Regions from separate parts of the Homo sapiens genome. Here region 1 is linked to region 2. Evidence: fine-mapped expression QTL. A gene starts in region 2. The other region holds a variant in brackets. All regions are shown on one strand. Distances are from middle to middle.

Region 1 (11,585 bases), 860 kb after region 2:
TAGGAGCTCAACTTCAGCCTGGGCAACATAGAAAGACCTCATCTCTTAAAATGAAATTTAAAAAAACTCGAAGGAAATATAATTCAGAAATAAAAAGGAGCAAACTACTCAGCATGCTAAGTAAAAGAAGCCAGAAACAAGAGTCCATACTGTATGATCTTATTTATTTATTTATTTATTTATTTATTTTTGAGAGGATTCTCACTCTGTCGCCCAGGCTGAAGTGCAGTGGTGCGATCTCTGCTCACTGCAAGCTCCACCTCCCAGGTTCATGCCATTCTCCTGTCTCAGCCTCCTGAGTAGCTGGGACTACAGGCGCCCACCACCACGCCCAGCTAATTTTCTGTATTTTTAGTAGAGACAGGGTTTCACCATGTTAGTCAGGATTGTCTCAATCTCCTGACCTCATGAGCCACCTGCCTCGGCCTCCCAGAGTGCTAGGATTACAGGCATGAGCCACCATGCCTGGCCTGTATGATCTCATTTATATGAAACCATAGGAAGACAAATCTAACCTATAATGATAGAAAACAAATCAGTGGTTGCCTAGGGCAAGGGTGAGGGGTAGAGATTGACTGGGAGGCGGCACAAGGGAACTTTGTGGGGTGATGGAAATGTTCTATAACTTGATTGTAGAGGTATAAATTTGTCATGGAACTATGGCCAGGCGCAGTGGCTCACGCCACTGTAATCCCACGCTTTGGAAGGCCAAGGCAGGAGGATCGCTTGAGCTCAGGAGTTCGAGACCAGTCTGGGCAACATGGCAAACCCCCGTCTCTACAAAACATACAAAAATTAGCAGGGTGTGGTGGCATGTGACTGTAGTCCCAGCTACTCAGGAGGCTAAAGTGGTAGGATTACTTGAGTCTGGGAGGTCAAGGTTGTATTGAGCCATGTTCATGCCACTGCACTCCAGACTGGGTGACAAAGTGAAACCTTGTCTCAAAAAGAATTTTTTTTCTAATTTGTCATTTAACTATACACATAAAATATGTGCACTCTATTATATAAAAATTATACGTCAAGAACATTGATTAAAAAAGAGATCTCCAGCCGGGTGTGGTGGCTCATGCCTATAATCCCAGCACTTTGGGAGGCCGAGGCGGGCAGATCAAGAGGTCAGGAGTTCGAGACCAGCCTGGCCAACATGGTGAAACCCCATCTCTACTAAAGATACAAAAAATTAGCTGGGCATGGTGGTGCATGCCTGTAATCCCAGCTACTCCAGAGGCTGAGGCAAGAGAATTGCTTGAACCTGGGAGGCAGAGGTTGCAGGGAGCCAAGATCGTGCCACTGCACTCCAGCCTGGGTGACAGGGCAAGACTCTATCTCAAAAAAAAAAAGAAAAAAAAAATCTCTAGTATGAGAATCAACTCTTCAAATTAATGTCTTTTGTTTGTTTTGTTTTGTTTTTGTTTTTTTGTTTTTGAGATGGAGTATTGCTCTGTCACCTAGGCTGGAGTGTAGTGGCTTGATCTCGGCTCACTGCAAGCTCCACCTCCCAAGTTCACACCATTCTCCTGCCTCAGCCTCCCAAGTAGCTGGGACTACAGGCGCCCGCCACCATGCCCGGCTAATTTTTCTGTATTTTTATTAGAGACAGCGTTTCACCGTGTTAGCCAGGATGATCTCGATCTCCTGACCTCGTGATCCGTCTACCTCGGCCTCCCAAAGTGCTGGGATTACAGGTGTGAGCCACCATGCCCGGCCCCTCAAATTAATGTTAATGGGAATAAATCCAAGTTCCACAAGCAGTAGGTCTGGCTTAACAAAACACATATAAAAAGCCCTGAGTTTGATCTTTCGGAAAGGCACTTCAACAACATCTACCAATGTTTTAAATGTATGTAGTCAGTATGCACTGGATTAACTATTTCAGGGGTCCCCAATCCCCTGGCCATGGACTGGTACAGGTCCGTGGCCTGTTAGGAATGAGGCTGTACAGCAGGAGATGAGTGGCAGGTGCATGAGCATTATCACCTGAGCTCCACCTCCTGTCAGATCAGTGGCGGCATTAGAGTCTCATAGGAGCACAAACCCTATTGAGAACTGTGCATGAGAGGCATCTAGGTTGTGTGCTCCATCTAATGCCTGATGATCAGAGGTGGAACAGTTTCATTCCAAAAGCGTTACCACCTGCCCCCATCTGTGAAAAAATTGTCTTCCACGAAACCAGCCTCTGGTGCCAAAAAGTTTGGGGACCGCTGAACTATTTGATCCAGTAATTCTCAGAATTTGTCTAATACGTTTCCTTGCACACAGATGCAAAGACAAACACACCAGGAAATCTGCCACAGTAGGGTAAACATTTGAAAAAGAATTCAAAATATCTGTAAAAGGTAATTAAATTAATTATGATATATGCATATAATAGAATAAAACTCAACTATTAAAAACATAGATCTAGACTTCTGCTTTTGCTTCCAGCCAAGATGGAATAACAGGGACTAAATTTTCTCTTCTACTTGAAAATATTGGACAACATTTATGGAAAAAATTGTTTTAAAGACATTGAAGGATAGATGCGGTGGCTCATGCCTGTAATCTCAGCACTTTGGGAGGCTGAGGTGGGAAGATCCCTTGAGGCCAGGAGTTCAAGACCAGCCTGAGCAACATAGTGAGACTCTATCTCTACAAAAAGATAAAAAATTAGGTGGGTGTGGTGGCTCATGCCTATAGTCCCAGCTACTCAGGAGAGGCGAGAGGACTGCTTGAGCCCAGGAGGTCCAGGCTGCAATTAGCTATGAACAGGTCACTGCACTCCAGCCTAGGTGACAGAGTGAGACCCTGTCTCAAAAAAAAAAAAAGACATTGAATATCAGGCAATAAAGGACAATCATCCATGATGCAAGACAGAAAACAAATGAGGTGAGCCCTACTACTGCCCCAGCATGCTGCCTAAAGATTTTCTGGGCCATGGTGCAGGGAGGGGGAACTCAGATGGAGCCCAGCAATCTCCTTGAATTGATGAGACAGAAGACATAGTCAGGGGAGGGCAAGGCAGCTAGAGTCCACAGAGCAGGGAACCAGAGAGAAGAGAGCTGCATAGAGACAGAACTCCAAAGATCTGCAGAGAGTTTCCCCTGAAGCTCAGCTGAGTATTAATCAGCACATGTGTATTGGGAAACTACCAGTGGTAGGCAGCCTCTGAGATGGCCACCAGTGAACCCCACCTCCTACTAGTCACACACTTGTGTAATACCCTCCCATTAAGTGTGGGTTGGGCTCACGTCTAACAGGATACAGCAGAAGTGATGAGATTTTATTTCTGACATTAGGTTATAAAAAAACTGTGGCTTCCATCTTGGGCATGTTCTCTGTTGCTCTCTCTCATTCTTGGGGAAACATGTCATGAAACTGCCCTGTAGAGACACCCATGAGGCCAGACACTTGGCCAATAGCCACGTGAGTTAGCCTGGAAGCAGGTCCCTCCCAGATGAGCCTTCAGATGAGACCACAACCCTGGCTGACAATGGCAACCTCAAGAGATTTTTTTTTTTTTTTCAGATGGAGTCCAGCTATGTTTTCCAAGCTGGTCTTGAATTCCTGGACTCAAATGATCCTCCTGCCTCAGCCTCCCAAGTAGCTGGTTCATAAGAGGTCTTGAGTCAGAAGCACCAAACTAAGCTGTGCCCAAATTTCTGACTCACAGAAATTGGGAGAAGTAAATGTCTGTTATTTTAAGTTGCTAAGTTTTGGGGCAATTTGTTACATAGTATACTACCCAAGGCTGGGGAAAGAATCACCCCAAATGATTAGAGGGATAAATCATCAGAGCTCAAACAGGACCAGAAATAGTCCTTTTCCCAATAACTAGAATAGAAAACCTCTCAAGTCATGGGGCATTCTGAAATACACAAAATGGTTTTACTTCACGAATGGGAAACTAGCTCTAGATTAAACACTGTTCTGACCCCACATAACAAATTTAAAAGCAAGCCTTGAAAAGATCAAAATACTTCCAAGTAACTACATCTTAACGTTCAGAAATATTTACAGGAATAAAAAATATGCAGTACTCAAAATTCACATTTTCTAGCATCCTATTAAAAAATCATGAAGGATACAAAGAAGTAGGAAAATATAAACTATATGAAAAGGAAACAATGGATTGAAACTGACTCAGAAATGACACATATGATGGAATTAGTACATAAGGGCATTGGAAGAGCTATTATAATTATATTCCAAGGAAAAAATATTGTGTATATTAAGTAGAGTTGTGGAAATTATAAAAAGACCCAAATCAAACTTTGAGATATAAAAACTAAAATGTCTAAAATGAAAAGTACACTAGGTGGGATTAACAGCAGATTAGACAATGCAGAAGGAGGATTAGAAAACTTGAAGACATAGCAATAGAAACTATCCAAAATGTCACAGAGGAAAAAAAAAAGAATAAAAAAAATGAACAGAACATCAGTGAGCTGTGAAACACAGCAATCCAATATACATGTTGCAATCCAATAATATATTGGATTGTAAGCAATCCAATATACATGTAATTGGAGTTCTCAAAGTGGAGGAGAGGGAGAGACAAATAATTTTTTTGAAAAAATCATGGTCAAAATATTCCAAATCAGATTTTAAAAATACAAACCCAGGAATCCCAGAAACTAAATGAACCTCAAGCACAGAAACATGACAAAAATTATACCAAGGCACAACATAATCAAATTGCTTAAAACTATTGATAAAAAAATTCAAAATCAGCCAAAGCAAAAAGGTACACTGTGTACAGAAAATATACAAGGTTATATAAAGAGTTTATACAAAAATAAAAATGTTGGCCAGGTGCAGTGGCTTATGCCTGTAATCCCAGCACTTTGGGAAGCCAAGGCAGGTGGATCACTTGAGGTCAGGTGTTTGAGACCAGCCTGGCCAACATGGCGAAACCCCATCTCTACTAAAAATACAAAAATTAGGCTCTCCCTCTCCCTCTCCTTCTCCGTCTCCCTCTCCCCACGGTCTCCCTCTCCCTCTCCCTCTTTCCACGGTTTCCCTCTGCTGCCCAGCCGAAGCTGGACTGTACTGCTGCCATCTCGGCTCACTGCAACCTCCCTGCCTGATTCTCCTGCCTCAGCCTGCCAAGTGCCTGCGATTGCAGGCGCGCACCGCCACGCCTGACTGGTTTTCGTATTTTTTTGGTGGAGACGGGGTTTCGCTGTGTTGGCCGGGCTGGTCTCCAGCTCCTAACCGCGAGTGATCCGCCAGCCTTGGCCTCCCGAGGTGCCGGGATTGCAGACGGAGTCCGGCTCACTCAGTGCTCAATGGTGCCCAGGCTGGAGTGCAGTGGCGTGATCTCAGCTCACTACAACCTCCACCACCCAGCCGCCTGCCTTGGCCTCCCAAAGTGCCGAGAGTGCAGCCTCTGCCCGGCCGCCACCCCGTCTGGGAAGTGAGGAGCGTCTCTGCCTGGCCGCCCATCGTCTGGGACGTGAGGAGCCCCTCTGCCTGGCTGCCCAGTCTGGGAAGTGAGGAGCGTCTCTGCCCGGCCGCCATCCCATCTAGGAAGTGAGGAGCGCCTCTTCCCGGCCGCCATCCCATCTACGAAGTGAGGAGCGTCTCTGCCCGGCCGCCCATCGTCTGAGATGTGGGGAGCGCCTCTGCCCCGCCACCCCGTCTGGGATGTGAGGAGCGCCTCTACCCGGCCGCGACCCCGTCTGGGAGGTGAGGAGCGTCTCTGCCCGGCCGCCCCGTCTGAGAAGTGAGGAGACCCTCCGCCTGGCAACCGCCCCATCTGAGAAGTGAGGAGCCCCTCCGCCTGGCAGCCGCCCCGTCTGAGAAGTGAGGAGCCCCTCCGCCCGGCAGCCACCCCGTCTGGGAAGTGAGGAGCGTCTCCGCCCAGCCGGCCGCCCCGTCCGGGAGGGAGGT[G/A]GGGGGGTCAGCCCCCCGCCCGGCCAGCCGCCCCGTCTGGGAGGTGAGGGGCGCCTCTGCCCGGCCGCCCCTACTGGGAAGTGAGGAGCCCCTCTGCCCGGCCAGCCGCCCTGTCCGGGAGGGAGGTGGGGGGGTCAGCCCCCCACCCTGCCAGCCGCCCCGCCCAGGAGGTGAGGGGCGCCTCTGCCCGGCCGCCCCTACTGGGAAGTGAGGAGCCCCTCTGCCCGGCCACCACCCCGTCTGGGAGGTGTACCCAACAGCTCATTGAGAACGGGCCATGATGACAATGGCGGTTTTGTGGAATAGAAAGGGGGGAAAGGTGGGGAAAACATTGAGAAATCGGATGGTTGCCGTGTCTGTGTAGAAAGAGGTAGACATGGGAGTCTTTTCATTTTGTTCTGTACTAAGAAAAATTCTTATCCTGTTGATCTGTGACCTTACCCCCAACCCTGTGCTCTCTGAAACATGTGCTGTGTCCACTCAGGGTTAAATGGATTAAGGGCGGTGCAAGATGTGCTTTGTTAAACAGATGCTTGAAGGCAGCATGCTCGTTAAGAGTCATCACCACTCCCTAATCTCAAATACCCAGGGACACAAACACTGCGGAAGGCCGCAGGGTCCTCTGCCTAGGAAAACCAGAGACCTTTGTTCACTTATCTGCTGACCTTCCCTCCACTATTGTCCTATGACCCTGCCAAATCCCCCTCTGCGAGAAACACCCAAGAATGATCAAAAAAAAAAAAAAAAAAAATTTCATACACAAATGAAAAAAAAAAAAATTAGCCAGGCGTGGTGGTGGACGCCTATAATCCCAGCTACTCGTGAGGCTGAGGCACAAGAATACTTGAAACTGGGAGGCGGAAGTTGCAGCTAGCCGAGGTTGTGCCATTGCACTCCAGCCTGGGTGACAAGAGCAAGACTCCATCTCAGAAACCAACAACAACAACAACAAATACAAAAATTAGCCAAGTATGGTAGCATATGCCTGTAGTCCCGGCTATTCAGGAGGCTGAGGCAGGGTAATCGCTTGAACCAGGGAGGTAGAGGTTGCAGTGAGCCGAGATTACACTATTGCACTCCAGCCTGCGTAACAGAGTGAGACTCTGTCTCAAAAATATAAATAAATAAATAAATAAAATGTTAACGGACTTCTTGTTGAAAACAATAAATAAAAATATGAACGGATTTGCTGAAAACAATGCAAGTCAAAAAAGACTTTAATGCAACATCTTTAAAGTAGTGAAAGAAAAAACCTGTCAACTTAGAATTTTATATCCAGCAAAAATTTCTTTCAAAAATGAAGATAAAATAGTTTTCAGACATAGAAAAGCTGAAATAATTCATCACTAACAGAGCTGAAATACAAGAAATGTTAAAGGAAGTACTTCAGGCAGAAGGAAGTGGTTATTAGGTAGAAATCTGGATCTATACAAAGGAACAAAGAACATCAGAAATAGTAACTATGTAGGTTAACATAAGAGTCTTTTCTTATTATTTTTTAAATATACAAAAAAGATACTTGTTTAAGCTGGGTATGGTGGCTGATGCCTGTAATCCCAGCACTTTGGGAGGCTGAGGCAGGTGGATTTCCTGAGGTCAGGAGTTCAAGACCAGCCTGGCCAACATAGTGAAACCCTGTCTCTACTAAAAATACACAAAATTAGCTGGGCATGGTGGCAGGCACCTATAATCCCAGCTACTAGGGAGGCTGAGGCAGAAGAATCACTTGAACCCAGGAGGTGGAGGTTGCAGTGAGCCGAGATCGTGCCATTGCACTCCAGCCTGGGCAACAGGAGCAAAACTCCGTCTCAAAAAAAAAAAAAAAGAAGATACTTGTTTAAAGCAAAAGTAATAACCATGTATGGTAAGGTTTTTAATATACATTAAAGTATAATATATCACAATAGCATAATATCTAGGAGGAGAAAATGGAAATATATCATTGTAAGATTCTGATTCTATACATGAAGTGGTATAATATCACTTAAAGGTAGACTGTGATAAGTTAAAAGTATATACAATGATCATAAAGCAACTGTGAAAATAATACCACAAACAGCTAATAAGCCAACAAAGAAAATAAGATTGAATTATACAAAATACATAATCCAAAAGGCAGGGAAAAACAGAAGAAAAAGGGAATAGATGTGACAAATAGAAAGAAAAATAGCAAGATGGTAGAGTCAAATCCAACCATAATCAATATTAACATTAAATGTCAATGATTAGGCATCTCAATAAAAATTGGGTCTTTCAGCAAGATCCAATTATATGCTGCCTTTAAGAAATTCACTTTTACATATAAAGACACAAATAGGTTAAACACAAAAGGATGGAAAAAGATATACCAAACTAATACTAATCAAGAGGAAGCTACACTAAATCAAAAGAAGTGGCTGAATTTACATCAGAAAAAGTAGGTTTTAGAGCAAAGAATATTACCAGGGACAAATAAGTTCATTTCATAATAATTAAGAGTTCAATCCCAAACATCTATGCATATAATAAAAGAGCTTCAAAATATATGAGGCAAAACAGACAGAAATACAAGGAGAAAAATATATCTATAATTATGGCTGGAGATTTTAACAACTCTATTAAGAATTTTTTTTTTTTTTTTTTTTTTTTTTGAGAGACACAGTCTTGCTCTGTCGCTCGGACTGGAGTGCAGTGGCGTGATCTTGGCTTACTGCAACCTCTGCCTCCCGGGTTCAAGCAATTCTCCTGCCTCAGCTTCCCAAGTAGCTGGGACTACAGGCATGCGCCACCATGCCCAGCTAATTTTTGTATTATTTTGGTAGAGACAGGGTTTCACTATATGTTGGCCAGGCTGGTCTCGAACTCCTGACCTCAGGTGATCTGCCCGCCTTGGCCTCCCAAAGTGCTGGGATTACACGCGTGAACCACCACGCCAGCCTCTATTAACAATTGATAGAGCAAGTAGACAGAAAGTTATAAGGGTACAGATGACTTGACCAATACTATCAACCAACTTCACCTACTTAACATTCATAGAACACTGCACCCCAAAACAGCAAGTTTTTTTCAAATGCAAATGAAACATTTACCAAGACAGACTATATTCTGGACCATAAAACAAGTTTTAATACATTTCAGAGGATTCAAATCATATAAAGTATGTTATCTTAGAATTCAATAACAGAGGCCAGGCGTGGTGGCTCACGCCTATAATCCCAGCACTTTGGGAGGCCGAGGCAGGCAGATCACCAGAGGTCAGGAGTTCAAGCCCAGCCTGGCCAACATGCTGAAACCCCATCTCTACTAAAATACAAAAATTAGCTGGGTTTGGTGGTGCATGCCTGTAATCCCAGCTACTCGGGAGGCTGAGGCAGGAGAATTGCTCGAACCTGGGGGGTGGAGGATGAAGTGAGCTGAGATTGTACCACTGCACTCCAGCCTGGGTGACAGAGCGAGACTCCCTCTCAAAAAAAAAAAAAAAAAAAGAAAAAGAAAAAAGAAATCAGTAACAGAAAGATAGGTGGATAATCCCCCAAATGCTTGGAAACTAAACACTCTTCTAAATATTCCATGGGTCAAAGAAGAAATCAAAAGAGAAATTTAAAGGTATTTTGAACTGAATAACATTGAAAATACAACATATCAAAATTTGTGGGATGCAACTTTTTCTCTGGTGGATTGACAGTGGAAAAGTGACAAACAAGAATTGACATGAGAAGAAACATTTACTGAGTACTTATAAGGCCTCATGCATACATCATCTCACTCTGCCTTCCTAGCAGCCTGTTGTGGTAATGATAACAAACATCTGCCATCTGCCTATGCAGCCAGGTAGTGTTCTAAGAGTTTTTATATATTAATTTGCTTAATGTCATTACAATCCTACGAGGTACGGACCATTATTTACATTTTACAGACTCTGAGGGCACTGGTGCACTTAGACATAGGGCCCACTTGCCCAGTATCACATCACTAATAAGAGAAGGACCCTGTATTCAAACAGAAGCAGTGGACTCCAAGCCTATGCTGCTAACCATGACACTACCCAAGGTAGATATGAAGAAACCAGGCCCAGAGACTTTGAGTACTCACCAAAGCTACCCAGCTAATAAATGGGACTCAAACCCAGCTCTGTTCAGCTCCAACCTCTCCTTTTTCCGCCCTTCTCCTCGCCACCCTGTGTTGGCCTCAGTTCTAATCTCAGGAGGACTGCTATATCTATAAGGCAATCCTTGGGGAGGAGGCCCCAGGATACACAGATTACAATCTCAAGGGAAGTGGGGGGAAGCATGCCAGTACTGAGCAGGAGGTAAGAGATAAGACATCTGAGCCACTGCAAATATCTGTTGAGGGCTGGGGTCCTTGACCCAAGTGGGTGACACAAAAAGATCTGCAGAGGATGGAAGGGGAAAAAAATAAATAAAAATGCCATTACAGAGCTGTGAATGGAAACAATACTACCCTAGAATCAGCAAGCCTGGTTATCACCCTGGCCAGTTCTAGAGGCTGCTACTTGACAACGTCTATGTCCAACAACAGGAAATGGAGAATGAAGAAGGCTGGAGATATTTATGAAGAGAAGAAAGTCTGGGCTTTGGAACCAGTTGTGCCTGGGTTAGAATCCCAACTCTACAGTCCTACATTGCTACTTATTTGCCCTATGAGCCAGTTTCCTCATGTGTCAGATGGTACAATCGTACCTTCTTAAAGAGTTATTAGGCCAGGTGCGGTGGCTCATGCCTGTAATCCCAACACTCTGGGAGGCCGAGGCAGTCGGATCACTTAAGGTCAGGAGTTCGAGACCAGCCTGGCCAACACAGTGAAATCCCATCTGTACTAAAAAAACAAAAATTGGCCGGGCATGGTGGCATGTGCCCGTAATCCCAGCTGCTCGGGATGCTGAGGCAGGAGAATTGCCTGAACCTGGGAGGCAGAGGTTGCAGTGAGCTGAGACTGCACCACTGCACTCCAGCCTGGGCAACAGAGTGAGACTCTGTCTCCAAAAAAAAAAAAAAAACAAAAAGAGAGCTATTATGAGAATTATGCAATATGTATAAACAGTCAAGCCCAATATAATAAACATACAATTAGAATTCAATAAATGATCACTGTTATTCATACTTGTTACTGAGTTGGGATAAGGCTGTGGAGAGTGCGCATACATTCACAGCCTAGGATGTGTCCAAACCACACACAGCAGCCAAAATATGTTTATCCATTAACTCTGTAATTCACTTCTGAGCACCTGCTAGATGCCAGGCATAATACGAAGCCCTGGGAATGCAAAGCCTTCATAGAGCTTATATTCTAGCAAGGGAAACAGATGTTTAATAAGCATTTCAGACTCAGTTGTATGATTTCAGTGGGGTTATATAACACAGAAGAGTACTTGAATGGTACTTGAAGGGTACTAGAATGGCATATAGCAGAGGATGGAAGATCTGGTCCAGCATGAGAAACCAGGAAGACTTCTTCAAGGAAGAATGTGTAGTCTAAGATCTCAAAGACAGAAGTGCTCCCTCTCCATGTGATGCCCTTTGCTGCCCCGGGACTCTGAAGAGTCCCCACCAGCAAGAAGTCCTTCACCAGATGCAGCCCCTCGACCTCAGATTCCCTAGCCTCCAGAACTATAAGAAATAAATTTCTTTTCTTTATAAGTTACCCAGTCTCAGATATTCAGTTATAGAAATAGAAAACTGACTAAGATACCATATGACCCAGAAATTCCACTC
Region 2 (11,585 bases):
ATTAGCAAAGAGAAAATGACTAAAAGGGAATACACCCGGTGTTCACTGGGCTGACTGGCTCCCCTTTGAACTTCAGGTGAGTATAAGATGACCAGACACTCCCTGACATGTCCCAGAAGGTTTGATTTTCACTCTCTGAGATCTCTTCTTTCTCTTACTCTGAATGGCTGGCAACTGCATTCTTCATTGAGAAAACAGAAGTGGGCCAGGCACAGTGGCTCATAACTGTAATCCCAGCACTTTGGGAGGTCGAGGTGGGTGGATCACTTGAGGTCAGGAGTTTGAGACCAGCCTGCCCAACACGGTGAAATCCTGTCTCTACTAAAAATACAAAAGTTAGCCAGGCATGATGGCGGGCACCTGTAGTCCCAGCTACTTGTGAGGCTGAGGCAGGAGAATTGCTTGAACCCAAGAGGTGGAGGTTGCAGTGAACTGAGATGGCATCACTGCACTCTAGCCTGGGCGGCAGAGTGACACTCCATCTCAAAAAAAAAAAAAAAAATTAGCTAGGCGTGGTGGCACGCACCTGTAATCCCAGCTACTCGGGAGGCTGAGGCAGGAGAATCATTTGAGCTTGGGAGGTGGAGGTTGCAGTGAGCTGAGATCGTGCAACTGCACTCCAGCCTGGGCAACAGAGTGAGACTCTGTCTCAAAAAAAAGAAAGAAAAAAGAAAAAGCAGCAGCCGGGCATGGTGGCTCACACCTGTAATCCCAGCACTTTGGGAGGCCAAGGCAGGCAGATCTTGAGGTCAGGAGTTAGAGACCAGCCTGGTCAAAATAGTCAAACTCCGTCTCTACTAAAAATACAAAAAAAAATTAGCCAGGTGTGGTGGTGGGCGCCTGTAATCCCAACACTCAGGGGGCTGAGACAAGAGAATTGCTTGAACCTGGGAGGTGGAGGTTGCCGTGAGCCAAGATCACACCACAGCACTCCAGCCTGAGCAACACTGTCTCAAAAAAAAAAAAAAAAGGCAAGGCCCTAACTGTTCAGTGGCTCCTTGAATAACTCAGTTTAGGCCAGGCACAGTGGCTCACACCTGTAATCCCAACACTTTGGGAGGCCGAGGCGGGTAGATCACAAGGTCAGGAGATCGAGACCGTCCTGGCTAACACAGTGAAACCCCGTCTCTACTAAAAATACAAAAAAATTAGCCAGGTGTGGTGGCGGGCGCCTGTAGTCCCAGCTACTCTGGAGGCTGAGGCAGGAGAATGGCGTGGACCTGGGAGGTGGAGCTTGCAGTGAGCCAAGATCGCGCCACTGCACTCCAGCCTGGGCGACAGCTCTGTCTCAAAAAAAAAAAAAAAAAAAAAAAAAGAATAACTCAGTTTAAAGGCTGCCTCCTTGGCTGGGTGCAGTGGCTCACACCTGTAATCCCAGCTCTTTGGGAGGCCAAGGTGGGCAGATCACAAGGTCAGGATATCGAGACCATCCTGGCCAGCATGGTGAAACCCCCGTCTCTACTAAAAATACAAAAATTAGCTGGGCATGGTGGCGCATGCCTGTAATCCCAATTACTTGGGAGGCTGAGGCAGGAGAATCGCTTGAACCCAGGAGGCAGAGGTTGGAGTGAGCCAAGATTGCACCACTGCACTCCAGCCTGGCAACAAAGCTAGGCTCCATCTCAAACAAAAAACAAAAAACAAAAACAAAAACAAAAAAGGCTGCCTTCTCTGAGAGGCCTTCCTGACTCCCCTATTTAATGAGGTTTCCCGACCGATTCCTCTAATTTTCCCATAGCCAGTTGCTTGTTTTTTAATCTGTATAATGAAAAAACAAAACAAAACAACTTTAGTTTAAAAGGAAAAAACACACCTCCTCTTGGAAGCTTTCCAGGAGTGAGTCTCCATTCAGTTTTCATCACGTTGGTCAATTTAGCAGCTTGAATGGGAGAAATGAAACCGTTTTTCTACTTGGGTAATCAGCATCTTCACTTCCTATGTTATATAATTCTTACAAGGTAATGCTTCAGTCTCTTTTGAGTAGCGCTTTCTGCAGCACACACTGTGTGTCTGTGCTGGGCACTTCGCAGCCCAATAGGGTACCACAACAGGCCCTGGAATTGGGCAGCTCTGGGTTCAAGTCAATCCCAGCCCTGCCACATCCAAGCTGTGTGACCTTGGTCACACATTCCAGCTACCCAGTGTTATGTAACAAATGACCCCAAAACTTAGTGGCCGAAAACAACAATACTTATTTTGCAGTTTGGGCAGGGTTGGTGAGACAGCTCATTTCTGCTCCACTTGTCCACTGGGGCAGCTCCAAGTCTGGGGGCTGAATCATCTGCAGGCTCACTCTCTCACATGTCTGGTGGTTAGTGGGGACCAGAGCTGGAGTTGTTGGCTAGATCACCTTCATGCGGTCTCCCCATGAGGCCTGGGCTTCCTCCTATCATGGTGGGTGAGTGGCCAGAGAGACAGAGAGAGAGAAAGAGAGAGAGAAGCAAGCTGGGTGGAATCCATGTTGCTTTTTATGACCTAACCTTGGAAGTCACAGATGAACACTTCTGCCATACTCTGTTGGTTGAGACAGTCACAAGATCTGCTGAGATTCAAGGTGGGGGCACACAGTGCCCCCACACACGTGCCGCACACATGTGCCGCTCAATTGGAGGAGCATCAGTGTCACATTGTAAGAAGAGCAATTGGGATGAGATATACCCTTTGGAAAATATTAATCAGTCACAAGAAGTATCTTCACCTTTTGGAGATCCTTTACTGAAATGTGGAGCACAGAGCCCGGCACACAGGAAGAGGCCACGCATCACACAGCTGCAGGATGTGCCGGCGCAAGGACGGTCACCCCGTCTACAATGTAGCCAGTTCTGGACTCTCAACAAGTCTTATCTCCTTTGTGGTATCCCTGGTCTGAACTGACCCTGAGTCCACAGCCCCTACGTCAGCCCCACCTAGTCCCTCCCCACCAGAGCCCTGTTGTTCTCAAGGCTTCCCTGGGTCTACAATGTAGATTCTTGACTCCCCAAATCCAAAGCACCTCAGAGCAGGTGGGACCCACAGGCCCCTCCCTGGCCAGCCATGAGTGTTGGGCCCAGAGAGGATAGGTGGTAGAGCCAGGACTCAGATCCCTGCCCTAGAAGAGAGATGCAGGCCACTCTAATCTCAGGACCACTGATGTGACCAAGGGTGTGTCAGGAGTGGCTGAGCCAGCCTGGTCTGCTATGTCCCTGCATTCACACCACCCAACACCTCCAAACCTATGTTCTGCACAGGGGCAGAAACTGAAGCACAGAGAGAGGACACACTTTCCAAGAGCTTCACAGCATCTTTCTGTGCCAGACTAGATGCAGCCTACTAGAGCCAGGGGCATCTGAGCTGGATGGACCCTGTCATCTGTTACATTAGACCAGAGCAGGTGGGGACTCTGAGGCCCGGAATGTGGGAAGGCCTGCCCTGGGTCACTAGCCTGCGGCTCCCACATCCTTCTCCAGCACTCCTGCCCACATGCCATGCCACCCTGTTTGTGCTGAGTCTTTTGTGGTCCCCCCCAACACACACTGTGTGCTCCATGAGTTCAGGCACTGACATGCCCACCACTGCGTCCCTCAGTGTACCTGGCGCCTGTGCAAACAGGGTTTGTGGACAGTCAGTGGGCCGTGAGGGGAGCTGGTGTCTTGCTAGGAGGGGGTGGGGATGCCCCTGCGGAAGTGTTTGCCAAGAGCCTGCTGAGTGCCTGCTCCTCACTTGGCCGTATGGAGGGCACCTAGCGTTGGGGTGGAGGAGCACTCACTCACCTGGATCCAGATGAAGTCATGCCTCTGGAGAGAGGGGATGCCCCAGGAGTGTATTCACAGCGTGTGGGGGAGGTGGGACAGAGACAAAGAAGTGGACCTGGTGCCTGCTGTGTCACAGGCAGGTGCAGAGGTGAAGGAAGGGAATTGGGGGAGGAAGAAGAAGGAGAAAATGGGCAGGAGGAAGAAGAGGGGAAAGAGGAGGAAAAGGAAGACTTGGAAAAGGAGGGGGGAAAGGAAGGGGAAAGATGGGAGAAGAAGGAGGAAGAAAGAGCAGGGGATAAATGGGAGGGGGAGGAGAGAACAGGAGGAGAAAGAGGTTGTAAAGGGGCAAAAACAGCCCTGCCCTTCTGGTGGCAAGGGGTGTGGGGCACCCTAAGGACGAGGGTACATCTGTGGGGCAAAGCACTCAATCCAGCTCTGCCCTGCGGTGGCTCAGGGATGGGGGCGTAGCGGCCAGGCGGTGTGGGGGCTGGGGAAGGTGTGAGAGACATGGGAAAATCAACACGGCCAGGAGCCAAGGAGACGCCCAGACGCCCGGGAGGAAAGAAAACACGCCCATCAGAGCTCAAGTCCTCCTGCACTGCTCCTGGTGGGGACGTGTGGGGTCAGGGCAACCGTCCCAGCCCATGCCAGCCCCCACGGGGGCCAAAACCGCCTTCCAAAGCATCCGCTAGGCTGACATCTCGTAATAGGTCCCCTCCATTTTATTTTTGTTTTTATTTATTTGTTTATTTTTTTGAGATGGAGTCTAGCTCTGCCACCCAGACTGGAGTGCAGTGGCGCGACCTCGGCTCACTGCAACCTCCGCCTCCCGGGTTCAAGCGATTCTCCTGCCTCAGCCTCCCGAGTAGCTGGGATTACAGGCACGCGCTACCACGCCCGGCTAATTTGTGTATTTTTAGTAGAGACGGGGTTTCATCATGTTGGTCAGGCTGGTCTCGAACTCCTGACCTCGTGATCCACCCGCCTCGGCCTCCCAAAGTGCTGGGATTACAGGCATGAGCCACCGCGCCTAGCTACGGGTCGCTTCCATTTTAGCCGTACAGAGCCTGAAACCCGGGTCGGGGGCGCATGGGGAGAAATATCCGCCGGTCAAGGTGCGCGAGCCAGGCATGCACACAGGGCTTCACGGTCCCTATGCCAGGAGAGGGAAGCCGAGGCAGGGGGAGCCCGAGCGCGCCCGGGAGGTGTGAGCTTTGGGTCCCATCGGCGCCGCCTAGACCGTGAGCTTGGCGCGTGCACCCCAGGCTTCAGTTTACGCATCTGTGCGATGGGATCGCGGCTCCGGCGATGCCGGCTAAGGGGGCGGAGTTCGCGCACGCTCGGCACGGGGCGAGGGGCGAGGCGCTGGGCGTGCATGGATGCGGGTTCCTGCGAACTGAGGTCCGCCCGGCCTCGGCCCGGGAGTCCCGGCTCCCGCCGCTCTCGCAGGCCCTGCCCGGACGCCGGGCGCAGGGGCGCCTCCGCCGGGTGCCTTCCCCGAGCGGGCAGGGGAGGAGGCGGCGGAGCGGAGGAGGAGGGAGCCCGGGCCGCGGCTGCCCGCGCCAGCCTGACCCTCGAAGGGGTCGCTGTTGCCTCGCAGATCCCTCCCTCGCTCCCTGCCTGCGTCCCTCCCTGCCGCTCCCGCCGCGTCCGCCTTTTGTTCGCGGAACCGCGCGCCCCCGAGCCGAGGCGGCGGGGCGGGGAGCTGGCGGGGCTGCGCGGGGGGCGGGCTGCGCCGGGCGGAGCCGGGGCCCGGGCCGCAGCCGGACTCGGAGCCCGAGGGAGCGATCGGCGTGCGGGCGGCGGGGGCCCGGGCGCGCTCCGGGGGCGCGGCGAGGCCGAGGGGGCGGGCGCCGGGCGGAGCCGCAGCCGGAGCCGGGGCGCCTGGAGGCGGTCGGGCCGCACTCTCCGAGCCCAGAGCAGCGGAGAGACCGCGCGGCGGGGCTTGGGACGGGGACGCGGTGTCGGGGCCGAGGTGGGCCGAGAGCAGCCGCAGCCCCAGCGGCCGGAGCCGCGCCGGGTCCCTCCCCAGGGACGTCGAGGCCGGGCGGGCCTGGGCCATGCGCGCAGCTCGCTGAGGCCGAGGGAGGCCGCGATGGAGGCGCCGGCGGCCGAGCCCCCGGTCCGGGGCTGCGGTCCCCAGCCCGCGCCTGCACCCGCGCCTGCCCCGGAGAGGAAAAAGAGCCACCGCGCGCCGTCGCCGGCCCGGCCCAAAGACGTGGCCGGCTGGTCGCTGGCTAAGGGCCGCCGCGGCCCAGGCCCGGGCTCAGCAGTCGCCTGCAGCGCCGCGTTCTCCTCACGGCCGGACAAGAAGGGGCGCGCAGTGGCTCCCGGGGCGCGCGGTGCGGGTGTGCGGGTGGCCGGGGTCCGCACCGGGGTCCGTGCCAAGGGCCGTCCGCGCTCGGGTGCGGGGCCGCGACCGCCACCGCCGCCCCCCAGCCTCACGGATAGCAGCTCGGAGGTGTCGGACTGCGCGTCGGAGGAGGCGCGCCTGCTGGGCCTGGAGCTGGCGCTGAGCAGCGACGCCGAGTCCGCGGCCGGGGGCCCGGCGGGGGTCCGTACGGGGCAGCCGGCCCAGCCCGCGCCCTCCGCGCAGCAGCCCCCGCGGCCGCCCGCCTCCCCGGACGAGCCGTCGGTGGCCGCGTCGTCGGTGGGCAGCAGCCGCTTGCCGCTCAGCGCCTCGCTTGCCTTCTCCGACCTCACCGAGGAGATGCTGGACTGCGGGCCCAGCGGCTTGGTGCGGGAGCTGGAGGAGCTGCGCTCGGAGAACGACTATCTCAAGGTGGGGGCGCCCGGGTAGAAAGGGAGGTCGCAGGGGTCGCCGGCTGTCACAGTCCCGCGGGCCTGAGGCACCAGCCGGCCCTCCTTCCCACTGAACAATCCGGAGAAAGGGGCCCAAGCCCTCTGGGGACCACTCTGAGGTGGATCTGGGGCTCCCTCATTCCCCCCGCCCCCTCTCAACTTTATTTGGGAAGCGCGCTCCTGAAAAAGACCTTGGAACTGGCTACAGGGCCCTAACCTGGGAGCGGGGACTTGAGAAAGCTTTGGAGCGTTCTGGGAGGCGTTGCTGAGGTGGGGGTGGGTAGCCAGGGAAGGGATGGATCTCTGCCTTCAGCTGCCCAGAACCTCCACGCCCAGGCTCTCCTTCTTGGGACGGGATTGATAGACACCGCCGCCAGGGAAACCTGTGGCCATCCCCTGCCCAGGAAAGGCCTGAATGCCATCCTGAGTCGTTACCCAGGGCTTTCCCGGGCGCAGGCCTGTCTCTGCCTGCCTTTCTGGGCGGGTCCAGTTTGAAAGCATGACATCTGGGAACATCCCCTTGGCTGGAGTCCACTTCCGCCCAGCCTAACGGTCCCACAGCCTGGAGGATGATGTCGTGGGAGAACCGGTTCAGAGGCAGCTTCCTAAATCCCAGGACAGTGTCTTTTGCCCTCCCTGGGGCAGACCTTGTGCACACAACAGCCCCATTGGCCCCTCGTGGCCAGTGCCTTTCCATGTTCGCAGTGAGAGGAGGGCAACTGCCCACCTGGAACAGGACTTCCCTGTGGCCATGTGGGGACCCTAGGGCTTCCCCCGGACAGCAGGCTTTGCCTTTGCTTTTTCAGTGGACATGAGCACCTACTGGGTGCCAGCCGGGCTCCATCTGCACGCTTCCAGGTGCCATGGCAGCTTTAGGGACAGCCCAGCTTGCACGTGTTGACCTCTCCCTGGGAGGCTGGAAGCTTCCTGAGCTCTCCTGCCGCTGGCTGGGCACGGTTTTGGAGGAGGCTGAAATGTTGCCGACTCTTGTCAGTGGATGATGGCCTGGCACAACACCCAGAGTGCCCCTGGCTGTGGAGCTCACAGCATGCTGCTGGTTTATGTCTGCCCTCAGCACTTAGGTTTTAACTTTTCCTTGTGGCTCTTCTGACCAAATGGGCTTCTCCCTCATTAGAGTGTTGGTGTCTTGCTCAACTATGTCTCTGTCTCCCCATTTTCCCCGGGATCTGCTCTCCAGCCTGAGTTCTGTAAATGCTTGTAGTATGGAAGGACAAGGTCTGTCTGAATCAAGAGACACCTTTCCCCAAGCCAGGCCTCAGTCTCCTCATCCGTTAAATGGGAGGATGTCTTCCCAAGGGCCGGGTTCGGTGTTGGCAACTGGGAGTTCAGTCGGCTCTTTGAGTCTTCAGAAGCCGGTGGTAAGGAGAGGGCAAGTGGAAGGTGAGGAGGAGGAGGGAGGTGACGAGCCAGGACAAGGGTCTTTTGCTCCTGCCCTCTTGGTGCTCTGAGCTGCTTCCAGTGAGTGCTGCCTGAATTGGCCTTAACCGAAACTCTGAGTTCCTCACCCCTGCCTCCCGGTTCCTGCTACTCACTCTGGTGAAGGGGGATGGGTTGCAGAGCTTTGCTTCAGGGCTCCTAGGCACCCATCTCCATGGGCCCCTGTCCATCCCAGGAAGTCATCAGGCTCTGACCCAAAGTCTGTTTGAGGCACCCATGACTGTTTAAAGGGGAAAACAGTCCCAGGAGGCTGGGGGTTGAGCCCGGGATCTCACAGGGGCCGGGGTCCAGCTGGGGACATCCCACGTTTGGGCCAAGATGGAACCGTAATTTCCACCATTCATTCAGTGGCTCAGGCTTCGTGCTGCTATTGGATCTGGGGTCTGTCGCTTCCTGACGGCGTGATCTTTGGCAAGTTACTTAAAGGCCCTGGACCTTTGCTTTCTCATTTGTAAAAATGGGACAGTAACACGCTTTCCAACCTCAACGGTTAAATGAGCTGATTCCTGCAAACACCATTAGAGCACCTGGTATGTAGTAAACCTCTGATCACTGCTCTTGTCAGAGGCACGGGACATGTTTCCATGTGCACCCAGCCTGTTCTCTTGTGGATTCTGTGAGGGCAGAATAGATCCTCTTCATCACCCAAGGCAGGCTGGGCTCTTTCTCCTGGCCCCTCATTGGTTCATTCGGCAGCTGTTTATTTAGAACCTGCCGTGTGCTAGGGCAGATCTGGGATACAGCTGTGGACAAGGGAGGATGAGGTGTCTGTTTTCATAGAGCTTTTGGGGAGACCAGAATTAAACAATAGTCATACAAGAAATCACAACACAGATCATAATGAGGGTAAAGGGGACAGTTTGCCAGGAGCACACGAAGGTGGGGGCTGGGGTGCACAGGGAGGCTGAGGGCTGCAGGATGCCGTGGAGCCAACTGAGTGAGGGTCTGGAGTAAGAAGATTTCAGGCTAAGGGAAATTGGAATGCTCGTTGAGTTCAAGAACAGCGCTAAGGCCAGAGAGGGGAAGGAGTGTGGGTAAGAGAGGAGAGCAAGGCCAGCCCATGCCACTTCTCACTGTGTACATTTGGGTTAGTCCCTTAACTTCTCTGTATATCTGTTTATCCCAGCCGCCAGCCTCACAGAGGCAGGGTCAAAATCCAGAGACTAAATGTGGACCATAAATAGAGGGGTTATTACTGGAGGTGTTGTGTTGTTTATTCCACAGATGGGAAAACTGTGGCCAGAGTGGGTCCCAGAGCAGGGTCGCTAGGCTGCCAGGGCTTGGAGTAAGCATGTGTTAGACTCTTGATGTGTTTTCTGCCTTTCTGGACTACTTTGCCTCTAAGATGCAGAAACTGAGTACAAGGGAAAGGACTCCAAATCCCCAGTATGTCCCCTGCAGGAGCAGAGTTGAAGGAGGTCCCACCAGGTCTGGTGGGTGGCCCTGCTCAGGCTTACCTCCCCCTTGTAGGGGTCACTGGGAACTGTCAACTGCGAAGGACTGTGATCTCCAGTCTGGTATGGTCTGCTCTGGGGTCCAAGTGAGGAAAGCATAAATCGGGCAACTCTCTCCCAGTGAGAAGATAGAAGGAGCTTCTACAGAGAAGGTAGTGAGCTCACTGTCACTTTAATTATTCAGAGAGAGGCGGGATGACCTTGCATGCTTGGATAAAGATAGAGGGTTTGTGGAATGATTGCTTGAGAAGGGTTCAGAGGGAGATTGATGTGGTGGCTGCAGTTGAGCTGCCTGACCTTGGGTCCCTTCTAGCCAAGGAAGTCTGAAGGTTATTAACTACTGAGGTGCCAGGATTCTAAGATGCAGCTTTAGCTGCCGAGCAGACACGTCACCTGAGACCTTCAAAGACCCGGTGATCTGAGGTCTTCCAGCCTTTCATCACCACTAACCATTAAGCACGTACCATGTGGCCAGAACATGTAGGAACCCACTGGGTGTGGATGGAGGAATCTGAGAGTTGGAGTCTGAAGACCTGACTTTGAAACCTGACTCTCCCGTTTACTGTGTGGCCATGGGCAAGTTACCTGGCTTCTCTGAGCTGCTTTTTTTCTCATCTGTATAATAAAGGTGATGGGGCCTGGCGCAGTGACTCACGCCTGTAATCCCAGCACTTTGGGAGGCCAAGGCGGGCGGATCACCTAAGGTCAGGAGTTCGAAACCAGTCTGGCCAACGTGGCGAAACCCCATCTCTACTAAAAATACAAAAATTACCCAGGCGTGGTCGTGGGCGCCTGTAATCCCAGCTACTCAGGAGGCTGAGGCAGGAGAATCACTTGACCCTGGGAGGCAGAAGTTGCAGTGATCCGAGATGGCGCCACTGCACTCTAGCCTGGGCAACAGAGTGAAACTCTTGTCTCAAAAAAAAATAAGTAAAGGTGATGGAACCTGCCTGGACAACCTCATACGATGGTCATCAGGAATCAGGGAAGTGTGAATAGACAAGAAAACATTTTGCAAGCAGTGAACCCAAGTCGCCTGAGGAATTGTTATTATTCATAGCCAATAGGCAGACAGGATGTCTGTGTCTTCATTCTTGGAGGAACTGGGAGAATGCAGGAGGGTGGATTTCCTTAGTTTTAGAATGTTAATACATCAGTAGCTGCCCCAGGGAGAACGGAAAGGTGTGATCACCTTCCCTGCCGTGTGTGTGTGTGTGTGTGTGTGTGTGTGTGTGTGTGTGTGTGTGTGTGTGTGTGTGTGTTTTCCCTCCTTGGTGATTCTAGATGTGAGTGAAGTGCAGCCAGTGTGTGTGTGTGTGTGTGTGTGTGTGTTTTCCCTCCTTGGTGATTCTAGATGTGAGTGAAGTGCAGCCAGTGTGTGTGTGTGTGTGTGTGTGTGTGTGTGTGTGTGTGTTTTCCCTCCTTGGTGATTCTAGATGTGAGTGAAGTGCAGCCAGTCTAGATGTCAGCTCAGAAGGGCCTGGAGGAAGCACCTAATCCATCCCCACTTGCCATTTTACAGATCAGTAAATGGAGGCTCTAAATTACATAGCCAGGATTCCAACCCAGGTTTGTCTAACTCTGGGCCTGTTCTTTCTGCAGTGTGACCAGAGCAGTGAGCTTTTGGTTGTTAACTAGCGTGTCTAGGCTGAGACACATTTGGTGAGAGGAATCCTGTCATGGGCCAGGCTCTAGGCTAAGGCATGCTGGGGGCCCGGAGCCTGGGGGAGGTGGGGGTTAGTGGAGGATGTTTGTGTGTGCATGTGTGTGAGATTGTTCCTTCTGTAACATGGGGGACAAGCACGCCCGCCCAGGGCCGTGAGGACCCTTTTCAATGTGAGGACGCAGATGGAGTGCACAGTGAGTGTTAGTGTGTCCCAGTCATTGCCGATCCCTTATCCGTTCCTCCAGGCATTCATTCATTCATTCAACACATATTTCCCCAGTGGCTCCTGGGTACCAGGCCCTGTGCTGGGTGTCTGGACCCAGTGGCCACGTAGTAGGCTTCTGCATGTAGCTCTTCTCTTCTTGGCTCCCAGGAGCTACAGGGGGAGGACTCTAGTCTGTCACTGGGTGGAGGAGAGGAGGTCACCACAGTCAGCAAAGCTCTTGGCTGCTCCTTACCCTGAGTCCCAGCCGC

Alleles and levels. Positions count from the first base shown, and alleles are read on the strand shown. Sizes are in standard deviations (SD) of each study's normalised expression.
With allele G in place of A in region 1, the expression in esophagus mucosa of the gene that starts at base 5,633 in region 2 is lower (moderate effect, 0.54 SD a copy in GTEx).

The links.
Region 1: its variant is fine-mapped to the expression of MTCL2 in esophagus mucosa (GTEx, PIP 0.96).

The regions. Positions count from the first base shown.
Region 1 is chr20:35,995,794-36,007,378 of GRCh38, reverse strand. The region is part of intron 8 of CNBD2 (cyclic nucleotide binding domain containing 2); the gene reads right to left. Among named protein-coding and RNA genes, the nearest start is that of CNBD2, 33 kb to the right of the region's middle. The variant G/A (reference allele first, on the strand shown) is at 5,875.
Region 2 is chr20:36,857,586-36,869,170 of GRCh38, reverse strand. MTCL2 (microtubule crosslinking factor 2) reads left to right here and starts at 5,633. Exons shown (of 15, transcript NM_080627.4): 1 at 5,633-6,513. The coding sequence starts at 5,827. RefSeq lists silencers at 2,013-2,082, 4,924-5,813, 5,884-6,033 and enhancers at 11,043-11,543, 11,544-11,585.